Linked DNA regions of Homo sapiens: region 1 is linked to region 2. The links come from fine-mapping of genetic effects on gene expression. A gene starts in region 2. The other region holds a variant in brackets. All regions are shown on one strand. Distances are between the middles of the regions. Region 1 has its middle 3.8 kb from the start of MIR1471. Region 2 holds the start of NPPC (natriuretic peptide C).

Region 1 (5,368 bases), 30 kb after region 2:
ATGATAGAATTTTGCAACCCTTTGTAAAACATCACTGAGCACTAAGCCTTGCTTAAAAACAATGTGTGGCTGTCTGATTCTACATACCAAAAATGGATATTTTAATTTTTTAAAAAGTCAGTCAGATAAACAATACTCAACCAGATATTTGCTATCATGTGTGTTTCTTTGAGCTCCATTGCTTGTGTTTACGGCCATCTGGATTTCTTCCTCAGTGAATGACTTGTTCTTTGACCATTTTCTCTATTTAAAGTAGCTTTTTATATATTTGGCACATTTACTCCTTGTCTGTCATGTATTTTGCTATTATTTTGCCCAGATAATGTTATTTGCCATATTGAAGTTTTAGATCTTTATTTATATGTATATGTATATATGTATAAATTCAACTAGAACATTATTTTATCATTTAGCCATGCCTAATTTTCTGTTTTTCTTCTTTTGTAGAGACAGGGCCTCACTGTGTTGCCCAGGCTGGTCTCAAACAGTCCTCTCACCTTGGCCTCCCAAAATGCTGGGACTACAGGTATGAGCCACCATACATGGCCAGTCTAAGATTACATCGAGTTTTTTTGGTTTTTTTTGAGACGGAGTTACGCTCTTGTTGCCAGGCTGGAGTGCAACGGCGTGACCTTGGCTCACTGCAACCTCTGCCTCTTGGGTTCAAGAAATTCTCCTGTCTCAGCCTCCCTAGTAGCTGGGATTACAGGCGCCCGCCACCACGCCCACCTAATTTTTTGTATTTTTAGTAGAGACGGGGTTTCATTCTGTTGGCCAGACTGGTCTTGAACTCCTTGTGATACCCTACCTTGTTTTAACCTGATTGTCTCTCTTAGCTGAGAGAGCCAGACAGACTCCATTTTAGTTCCTTCACTTACAGCCCCTTTACCTCCCTCCCTTAAGGGCATAACTGGTGCAAGCTGACTCCATGCACATCCAGGAATGCACTTACTGAGAAGATATTGAGGCAAGCTGAACCAGCAGCTCCTGGGGACGCTCGGTGGATGGCATCTAGAGCCCCTGCCTTTATATCTTTGTGATAGTTTAAGCCCCCTGCACCTGGAACTGTTTATTTTTTCTGTAACTACTTCTGTAACCAATTAATTTTTTTAACTTTTTGCCTGTTCTGCTTCTGTAAAAATTGCTTCAGCTAAACTCCCCCTCCTCTAGTTAGACCACGGTATAAAAAGAAATCTAGCCCCTTCTTCGGGGCCGAGAGAATTTTGAGCGCTAGCCGTCTCTCAGTCGCCGGCAATAAAGGACTCCTGAATTAGTCTCAGAGTGTGGCGTTTCTCTACAACTCGCTCAGTTACAACATCCTGACCTTAGGCTATCCACCTGCCTTGGCCTCCCAAAGTGCTGGGATTACAGGCATGAGCCACCACGCCCAGCTAATTTTGTATTTTTAATAGAGACAGGGTTTTGCCATGTTGGCGAGGCTGGTCTCAAACTCCTGACCCCAAGTGATCCACCGGCCTCGACCTCCCAAATGCTGGGATTACAGGTGTGAGTCACTGAGTCCTGCCATGAATATGCATTTTTTTATTCTTATATGCATTAAAGGATCCTCAGGTAACGCTTATATACATCAAAGTTTGAGAAGCAGTGAAGATAATGATATATGTTTTTTATAACCTTTATCGTATTAATGCAGTAAATTACAGGACCACATTTTCCAAATTTTTAACGACTCTTACACTCCTGTGATAAAACTATGGCTTAAATATTGATGAATAGAATTTGCTAATATTTTATTTAGGATTTTTATGTCAATATTCAAAAGTAAGAAAGATTGATCTGGCTGGGAGGCCTGTAATCCCAGCACTTTGGGATGCCAATGTGGGCAGACCGCTTGGGCACAGGAGTTTGAGACCTGCCTGGGCAACAAAATGAGATCCTGTCTCAACAAAAAATAAAAAATTTAGCTAAGCATGGTTGTGCACCTGCAGTCCCAGCTATTCAGGAGGCTGAGGTGGGAGGATCAATTTAACCCATAAGGTTGAGGCTGCAGTGAGAGGTGATTACACCACTGCACTCCAGCCTGGGTGACAGAGCAAGACCCTGGCTCCAAAAAATAAAAAAAGAAGAAGAAAAGAGAAGAGGCTGGACACGGTGGCTCATGTCTGTAATCCCAGCACTTTGGGAAGCCGACATAGGTGGATCACCTGAGGTCAGGAGTTTGAGACCAGCCTGGCCAACATGGTGAAACCCTGTCTCTACTAAATACAAAAAATTAGCTGTGCCTGGTGGCAGGTGCCTGTAATCCCAGCTACCTGGGAGGCTGAGGCAGGAGACTTGCTTGAACCCAGGAGGTAGAGGTTGCAGTGAGCTGGGATCGCACCACTGCTCTCCAGCCTGGGCAACAAGAATGAGACTCTGTCTCAAAAAAAAGAAAAGAGATTGATCTGTGTAATTTTTTGTGCCAACTTGTCAGGTTTTGGTACCAGGGGTTATTTCTGCATATTCATTTCTAATTGTGTATACTTTTTCATGGTAAAACTTGTCAGGTTTCATATAATAGTATTGGTTGTTTTCAAGGAATAAGCTTCCTTTTCCCTTTTATGTTGACTTCCTATGTATCTTAAAGTCTATTTAAAAAAAAAAAACAATCTATTGGAACTGCTCCTTTTTTAACCACTTCGCACTGTTTCAACTATTGTAGCTCTATGAAATATTTTATTATTTGTTACCAGAAGATTTTGGTAAATCCACTAAACCTTCTAAAACGTCCTTTTTCTTTCCAACTTTCTTGCTCCCTACAGGCTTCTGGTAGAACGTCAGGAGAAAATGACATCACCTTGGAAAGGTCTCCCTTTGAGCTGCTCAGTTGACCAGCGGCTGCTTGCTGTGTAGGTATGCGGGCTCCAGTCTGACAGGCCTGAAACACACTTACCTTCGCAAATGTCTTTACCACATGCTAAGCGCGCCTGAAAAGGAGCCTGGGATTCTGGGATCAACGCAGCCAAGAACACTCTGTCCCATCTTCCATCTTAATAACGAAACGCTGACTGCCTGCTAAAAGATGCACAATTTATTTTAAATATATGAATAGGATGATTGTTTAAAGAGTTCCAGCTGGTTAAATTTAAGTTCCTGCAATAAAACTCTCCTCCGGCATTCTCTGGCTTCGGGCCTCGAAGGGCTACAGGCCCTCTGCTCTGAATTGT[G/A]AACTGCGATCTTGCGCGTTCAGGTTTTCCGGTAGTGGCTTTGCTGTTCTAAGTCAAGGCATCAGTGACTACCTTGACCTCAAGAGGACTTCTTCCACTATTTGAGCAACCTGCTTCTAGACCATTCTTGCCAGTTAGGAAAAGTTTTATTCAGTAAAATATTTTCAGTGAACCACTGGACAAAAACCAGGTGGCTGCTTTCCTTTGATCAGAGAAGTCCTCACTCCCTGTATGAGTCTGTTCTCACACTGCTATAAAGAAATACCTGAGACCAGATAACTTGAAAAGAGGTTTCATTGGCTCATGGTTCTGCAGGCTATACAGGAAGCATGAGGTTGGCATCTGCTCGGCTTCCAGGAGGCCTCAGGAAACCTACAATCATGGCAGAAGGTGAAGGGAGAGCGAACACCTCACACGGCCGGAGCAGAAGCGAGAGAGACAGCAGGGAGGTGCCACCCACTTTTAAATGAGCAGATCTCGCGAGAATGCACTCACTCTCACGAGAACAGCACCAAGAGGGAAATCCACCCCCATGATCCAACCACCTCCCACCAGGCCCCACCTCCAACACTGAGGATTATAATTCCACAGGAGATCTGGGAGGGACACAGATTCAAACCATATCTTTCCCCTTCTTCTTTGAATGTATTCGTTTCTTGACATCCACCTGCCAGGGGAGAATGGCCTTCAGGAGCTCGAAGCAGCCACAGGTGTCAAGTCGGGGCTTTCCCAGGCCTCCTTCAGCAGCTTCTCAGGTTCATTAACAAACATGGCCTGGCCTCCAGGTCAGTCTCCGTTAACGCCTCAAGGCTGCCTGGACTCTTCTCTGCCTCTGTTGCCCCTGCAAGGAAACATTCCCTCAGCTTCCAACATCCCCCTTTGTGCCAGGAGTCACCTGGGTCCTGTTAACACAAGGATGGACCAGGGAGGGTGCCCAGAGCTGACATGGGGTGACAAAGGGCACCAGGACTGCATGTCAGAGAGATCTGGGTAAGAAGCAGCTAGGTACCACATCCTACTTCTAACCCAGAGGGATGGAGCGGAGTAGGGCGAAGGCACCAGAGTGACAGAGAGGGTGTGAGAGTGAATCATGGGTGGGCCCCATTCCTCTCTGACAACCTGTGTTCAGAGAAGCGGGAGATGAATGGGACGGCTGGTTGTCTTCATGAAGTTTAGGAGTTAGGTGGAGAAAAACAGTCAGCAGCAGAACTTTACATATGGTTTAAGAATGGCTGCAATGGAAGATTTTTGTATTTGTTTTTGTTTTAGGTTTTTTATTTCTGTTTTTTTTTTTTTTTTTTTTTTTTTTTTGAGCCAGGATCTCACTCTGTCATCCAGGCTGGAGTGCAGTAGTGCCATCACGGCTCACTGCAGCTTCGACCTCCCAGGCTCAAGTGATCCTCCCGCCTCATCCTCCCGAGTAGCTGGGACTATGGGCATGTGCCACCACACCTGGCTAATTTTTTAATTATTATTTGTAGAGATAAGGTCTCATTATGTTGCCCACATTGGTCTCGAACTCCTGGGCTCGAGTCCTCCCACCTCAGCCTTCCAAAGCGTTGGGATTACAGACATGAGCCACTGCTCCTGGGATGGAAAATTTGTTAAGGGAGGAGGGGACAGGTGAGGAAAATTTGGTTGCAGTTCAAGTGAGAAGAGCCTTCACCGTAGAGCAAAGGAGAGTGGACTTAAGTATACAGGCAGTGGGGGAAAGGCGTGATGTTAGAAGTTTATTCGGACAGCAGCTTGTAGGATGTCTGGAGCCATGTACTCTGCTGTTCATGCTGTGATCACCCTGTTGAGCCTAAAAACATTGTATCAGCCAGGTTTCTGCTGAGTCCTACTGGATAACAAACTCCACAATCCCCGTGGCTTAGAGCAGCAATCATCTATATCGCACTCACAAATGTGCCTGCTGGCCAGAGCAGCTCTCCTTCAGGCCCTGGGTTGCATTTAGTTCTCTTCATGTGTCTCTCATTCTGAGGCCAGTGGCTACCTGGGGTATGTTCTTCCCATGGAGGAAAGCAGAAAGTGCAAGAGGGGTGGGTGGCAGCACTGACACTCTTTGGAACTGACATACTGTCACTCTGCCCACACTCCAATGGCCAAAGCATGTCGTATAGCCAAGCCCAACATCCATGGAGCAGAGAAATACACTCTGCCTACTCTAGTGGGAGACACTTTAGCGTCTTGCAGCAAAG
Region 2 (5,368 bases):
CGGCCTTGGGGCCTTTTCTCCCTCTTTTGCCGTTAGGAGGAAATTTAAAATTGAGCAGTCAATAAAATGACTTGAATAGCTCATATTCAGCTGCTCAGTGAGTTCAACTTTCCCAGGCCATGCCCCTGGGGCCTGGGGCAGAAGAAGCAGACTTCGTAAGGGAAAAGCAACAAAAAGGGACCTGAGTTCCAAATCTAGGCTCAGGAGGAAGAGTGGGCGTCCTCTGCAGCTCCCCAGGCAAGGAAAGCAAAGGGAGAGGGGAAACCTTCATCTCCAAGGCAGTTATGTGCTGATGGCACACCTCCCGGTGGCCCCTCCTGCCCAGGCCTCTGACTCTTACCCACCCTGCCTCCCAGGCCCCAGCTAAGCAGAAGCTGCTCCACAGCCTGCCCCCCGGGAAGCCTCCCTCTGCAGATGACCACCGCCCAGTGGTCAGGAGTGGCAGCTCACCAGATTTCCCTTCCAAAGATGGGAAGGTGAGTCCAGGGAATCGGCTCTGCCACAGTAGGTTGGGGGTGTCAGTTTTATTAATTTAGCCTCAAAGTTCAAACAGAGAGGAGACCTAGATAGTCAATCACCTGGACGCGAATGTGTCTAGGAACACAGAAGACAGGAAGGACCAACCTAAGGACGTTCAGACAGAAGGAAGTAGCCATGAACAGCGGAAGATTTCCTTAATAAGGGGCTTTAGAGGATGTACTGCTGGCCCCTGGAAACCAGCCCAGTGCTTGACTCTAGAGTCAGTCTGTGTGGCTCTGCCTGACTCTTTAAACAGGTATAAAGAAAGCAAGTGTCAGAGAAGTTCCAGATGGTAACATCCTTCTTTGCACAGCAGGCAAAAAGCAGAGGGAACTTTCACAGCCCACCTGGATACCCCTCCCTATACTGCTTTCTAGTTCCTCTTCCTTTCTCCTCAAATGAAAGAGTGGTGCCACTCTATGGGTGTTAGCACGGAGAGGAATTGGGGGGCTGCGTGGAGGTGGTGACTCAATTCACCAGAATCCACAGAAGGTGCCCTGTTGATGTCTGGATCTTCCTGGAGATCAGGAAACTTTGCTGCCCCAAACTCAGACCTCAGGTGTTAGCTGTTTCCTAAGCAAAGTGACCTGTGTAGTGGTTGCTCCAATGTTGTGAGTCAGGGTATGAGAGTGGGAAGGGGTAGCCTGAGAAAGGTGCCGACAGAGCAGACCATGATGCGGCCGCCTTAGCAGCTCTGGGACCAGGCTCACTACCACGGAGGGAAGAGGGAGGCTTGGAGGGAACCTGGTTCTCCAAGCCCCTCTTCACTCCAGTTGCCTTCCTGCCTCAGGCACAGCTTCCTCTCCCTGGAAAATCTCGTCTGGGCTACTGTCTCCCCAGAATCGCCTTCACGCCTGGGGACAGCCACTGCACTCCTGCGGCAACATTTGTTCTCTCTCCAGCCTGCGTCCTGCTCAGCAGCAGCCAGTCATAGATTCCTGCTCTTCAATCAATTCGGGGGATCTGGGCTCTCCGCCTCTGCGGCCCACACCGCAGTGCCCAAATGCCCACCACACTCCTTAGTGTCCAAGGGACCGAGAAGCCCAGTGCAAGGAGAGCAAGTTCGTGAGTGGTAGGGATATGTGGCCATGTCCCGAGAGCCACGGGGACCTCTCTACAGTCAAAAACGGGAAGTTGACCACCTGTCACGGCTGGCAGAGGCTGGACTGGGCCGCTGGCTAGGAAGCTCTCTCCCCAGCCTGTGAAAGTGCACAGGATACTGGAGCGGGCTTCCCCCAGCAGCGGATCCTCGCGTGGGTGCAGGCAAGGTCAGGTGCGCATTGTTCCCACAGAGGGAGTTCACCAGCGGAGTCAGACCCCGGGACGTTCTGTGTGGCCGAAACCGGCTGAACGTGAACCTAGAGCAGTAACTGGCGAGCATACGATGCCGCGGAGCACACGCATGAGCATGAATATCTTGGTTCCGCGCTCGCAGTCCCCTCGTTCCCGCCTTGCGCTCAAACACTCAGGCTGGCGACACCCCTGCACTCTCCAGTGTGGAAGACTTGCGCTCCCCCCTGCGGCCCAGGCGAACCCCGCTCTCCCTGCGCCTCCCACCCCAGTCCTCCAACCCCATCCTCTGCCTCCCCAACCTAACGACGTCGCTGTGGTCTGCGCTCCCGCCCTGACCGGCAGGTGAAAGGCGGAGCTGCAATGCCATCCCGCGGCTGTCAGGTGCCCAGGGAAGAGTTTGGCGACAAGCAGGGCTGCGTGGATTTCGGGCAGCGCCAACTTTATGCCTGTATGACTTTGGGCAAGTGACTTCATTCCTCTGAGCCTGTCTTTGCACCTGCAAAGAGGGCTACGTATCCCTTCCAGGTAGAGTGAGTGCGATGAGGACCTAGTGGGTGCACAGGGCACCAGGCGCACCGATGCTCGGCAGGCCAGGGCGCGCGCTCGCTGCAAATGGAGTTCCCCTGTGCGCTCAGCTCTGCAGCTCCAAGTGCAGCCTGGAGCGAGCCCGCCGAGCCGCGGGATCCCTCCGGGGTGGGATAAGGGAGGGGAGCCCCCGCGGCCCCCTCCCGGCCCTCGGCGCGGCCGCGTGCGTGGTGTCATTGGCCCGGGCGGCCCGGTGGGCGGGAGGATGACATCAGCGGCAGGTTGGATTATAAAGGCGCGAGCAGAGTCACGGGCTCAGAGCGCACCCAGCCGGCGCCGCGCAGCACTGGGACCCTGCTCGCCCTGCAGCCCAGCCAGCCTGCTCCGCATCCCCCTGCTGGTCTGCCCGCCGACCTGCGCGCCCTCGCTGCCGCCCGTGTGCGCCCCTCGACCCCAGCGGCACCATGCATCTCTCCCAGCTGCTGGCCTGCGCCCTGCTGCTCACGCTGCTCTCCCTCCGGCCCTCCGAAGCCAAGCCCGGGGCGCCGCCGAAGGTGGGTGCTGTCGTGGGGACGCCGAGCCTGGGAGAGGCGTGGGAGGCTGGGGGCTTGGAGAATGCGGCGCGCAGGACCCAGGAGAGAGGGAAGGCAGGCGGCTGTCTCCTCCGAGATGCGCGTGGGCGAGAGCCGGGGAGCCCTCGAAGCGCGGATTCGGGGGTCCACTTCTCCAGCCTCCGGAGAACATCGGCCCATGCGCAGCCCCCTACCCCAGTGTGGCCTGCCCGGCGAGCAGCAAAGGGAGGGCAGGGGGCTTCCGGAGGGAGCGGCGAAGGCGGCCGCGTGGCAGGTGGATGCGGGGCCAAGCTGGCCGGCATCGGTGGGGGCGGCTCTGGGCTTGGGAGGGACACCCCGCGCCGGCGGGCGCGTGGGGCTGGAGCATCAGAGTCCCCCGTGCTGCAGCCGCGTGTCCCTTCACCTGCCCGCTCTTTCCTCGGACAGGTCCCGCGAACCCCGCCGGCAGAGGAGCTGGCCGAGCCGCAGGCTGCGGGCGGCGGTCAGAAGAAGGGCGACAAGGCTCCCGGGGGCGGGGGCGCCAATCTCAAGGGCGACCGGTCGCGACTGCTCCGGGACCTGCGCGTGGACACCAAGTCGCGGGCAGCGTGGGCTCGCCTTCTGCAAGAGCACCCCAACGCGCGCAAATACAAAGGAGCCAACAAGAAGGGCTTGTCCAAGGGCTGCTTCGGCCTCAAGCTGGACCGAATCGGCTCCATGAGCGGCCTGGGATGTTAGTGCGGCGCCCCCTGGCGGCGGTGAGTACGGCCCACCCGACGCCCAGCCCCAGCCCGGCCCGGGACCGCCCGCCGCCCAGCCGGCCTTCGGAGGCGCGCGAGCCGCCTTTGCTCAAGTTGTGCTAGGCGTTTGCCAGCCGCCCCCTTTATTATCCCACTTTACAGACAAAGAAAGCGAAGGATAACGTGATCGGGGAACTTTGGCAAGGTCAGAAACGGCTCAGCCTGGTTGAACCCACCTGGCTTCTTCTGGAGAAGCAGAAACAGGCTTGGTGGTGTCTCACCCACCCCTGAACCGTAGCTGAACTAGCAGCACTGGCCCCTATTGGCCAGCTGGTGGGGGGATTGAGAGGAGATCATGGGTTTGTGGGAGCAGAGAAGGAAGGTTACACCCACAAGTCCAGGGGACATCGATCATCTGCTGGCCACCATGCCCCCTGTAGTGAGAGTAGCCCTCTGCTGGCACTGTCAGAGCGCCCTTCTGCCTGGGACACTCCGATTCCTGTCCCTTCTCTAAACCCAGGCAGTGGGCAAACTGGTCTGTCCAGGGTCCTGAGGCAGCTGCAGCCTGGTGGCTTCGGGGGTGAATCTCAGTGCTTGTGGCACTATTTCAGGGAATAGGAAAGACACTAAAGTAAATATTATTTGCCCCAGCCTCGAACTCAACACGTCCCAGAGTCCCTCACCAACCCTGTCCCGACCCAACCGGTGCTCTGGGCTCCGTTTCTGGTGTGGGGTCTCACCCCGCACTAGGGCTGGAAACCTCTGCCCTACCGCCACCCCCTGCCGGGTGCCGCGTGGTGGTAATTTACTGCTGCAGAGAGCCTCACCTCTCCTCTTTCCCTCCTCTCTATTCCTGCCGCCTGCCCGTGCCCACTGAATAACATCCCAGCCTCTGACATTGACAGTCATGTGCGTTAGGATCAGGCTTACCTGGCTTTCTCGCTTTCTTGCCTCCAGCTCAGCAGCTGCCACTGCCTGTCCCACACCTTGACTGTCCCATCCCAGGCTACGGGCAAGCTGCTGTCTCCTCCCCAGAAACCCTTGTCAGTGTCGGATCTTCTCCCGGAGGGAAACAAGAGCGCCTGTCCAGCACACTGTCTCTTTTTTACAGTACAGAACACTTTTTCACAGTTTGTGAACCCATTCACCTCTCCATATTGAACAGCTTAAGGGCGAAGTGCTGGCCTAAGGCACTCTAGGACCCACTGCACCCCGAACAGACTCGTGGAAATATTTGTCAATGACCAGAGAAACCAGCACACCCTGGCCCATGGCCACTCCCACCTGCCCGAGGTTTTAACCAGTGCCCTTCCTCTCTTTGCAGCCAGACCTCACTCGGCTGTGGGCCTCTCCCCAGTTCTGCAAAGGCTGTAGTTGTCTGTGATCTTGACTCTCCCCTGCACAGGGAGAAGAATGATTCTGACACTTGGGGACCAGCCTTCAGTAGCTACCCTTGGAATGCCTTTGCTCTCTTCTCTCCTGTCTAAACAACAAAGAGACGGAGTCTGAGGCCTCAAATTTTCAGTTTGATTTAAGCATCAAGTTCAAACTTTAGAACCTGAGCAAATGTTAGTGACTCTCCATTGGTTCGTACCTGGAATGCGCATCCCCACAGGGGCTTTGTTCTTGGGCCTGGATGTCTGTGGTCACCAAGTGATGGCCAAACGGGTGGTGAAAGATGCTGTGTAGGAGGAATCCACATTGTTAAGAATTCTCGACCCCTTTGATCAGGGGGGTTCA

Evidence for each region.
Region 1: its variant is fine-mapped to the expression of NPPC in esophagus muscle (GTEx, PIP above 0.99).

The regions. Positions count from the first base shown.
Region 1 is chr2:231,893,431-231,898,798 of GRCh38, reverse strand. No RefSeq gene overlaps it. Among named protein-coding and RNA genes, the nearest start is that of MIR1471, 3.8 kb to the right of the region's middle. The variant G/A (reference allele first, on the strand shown) is at 3,168.
Region 2 is chr2:231,923,683-231,929,050 of GRCh38, reverse strand. NPPC (natriuretic peptide C) reads left to right here and starts at 2,655. Exons shown (of 3, transcript NM_024409.4): 1 at 2,655-2,891; 2 at 3,336-3,646. The coding sequence starts at 2,802. The coding sequence ends at 3,626. RefSeq lists an enhancer at 1,311-1,965 and silencers at 2,367-2,586, 3,542-3,591, 3,672-3,761.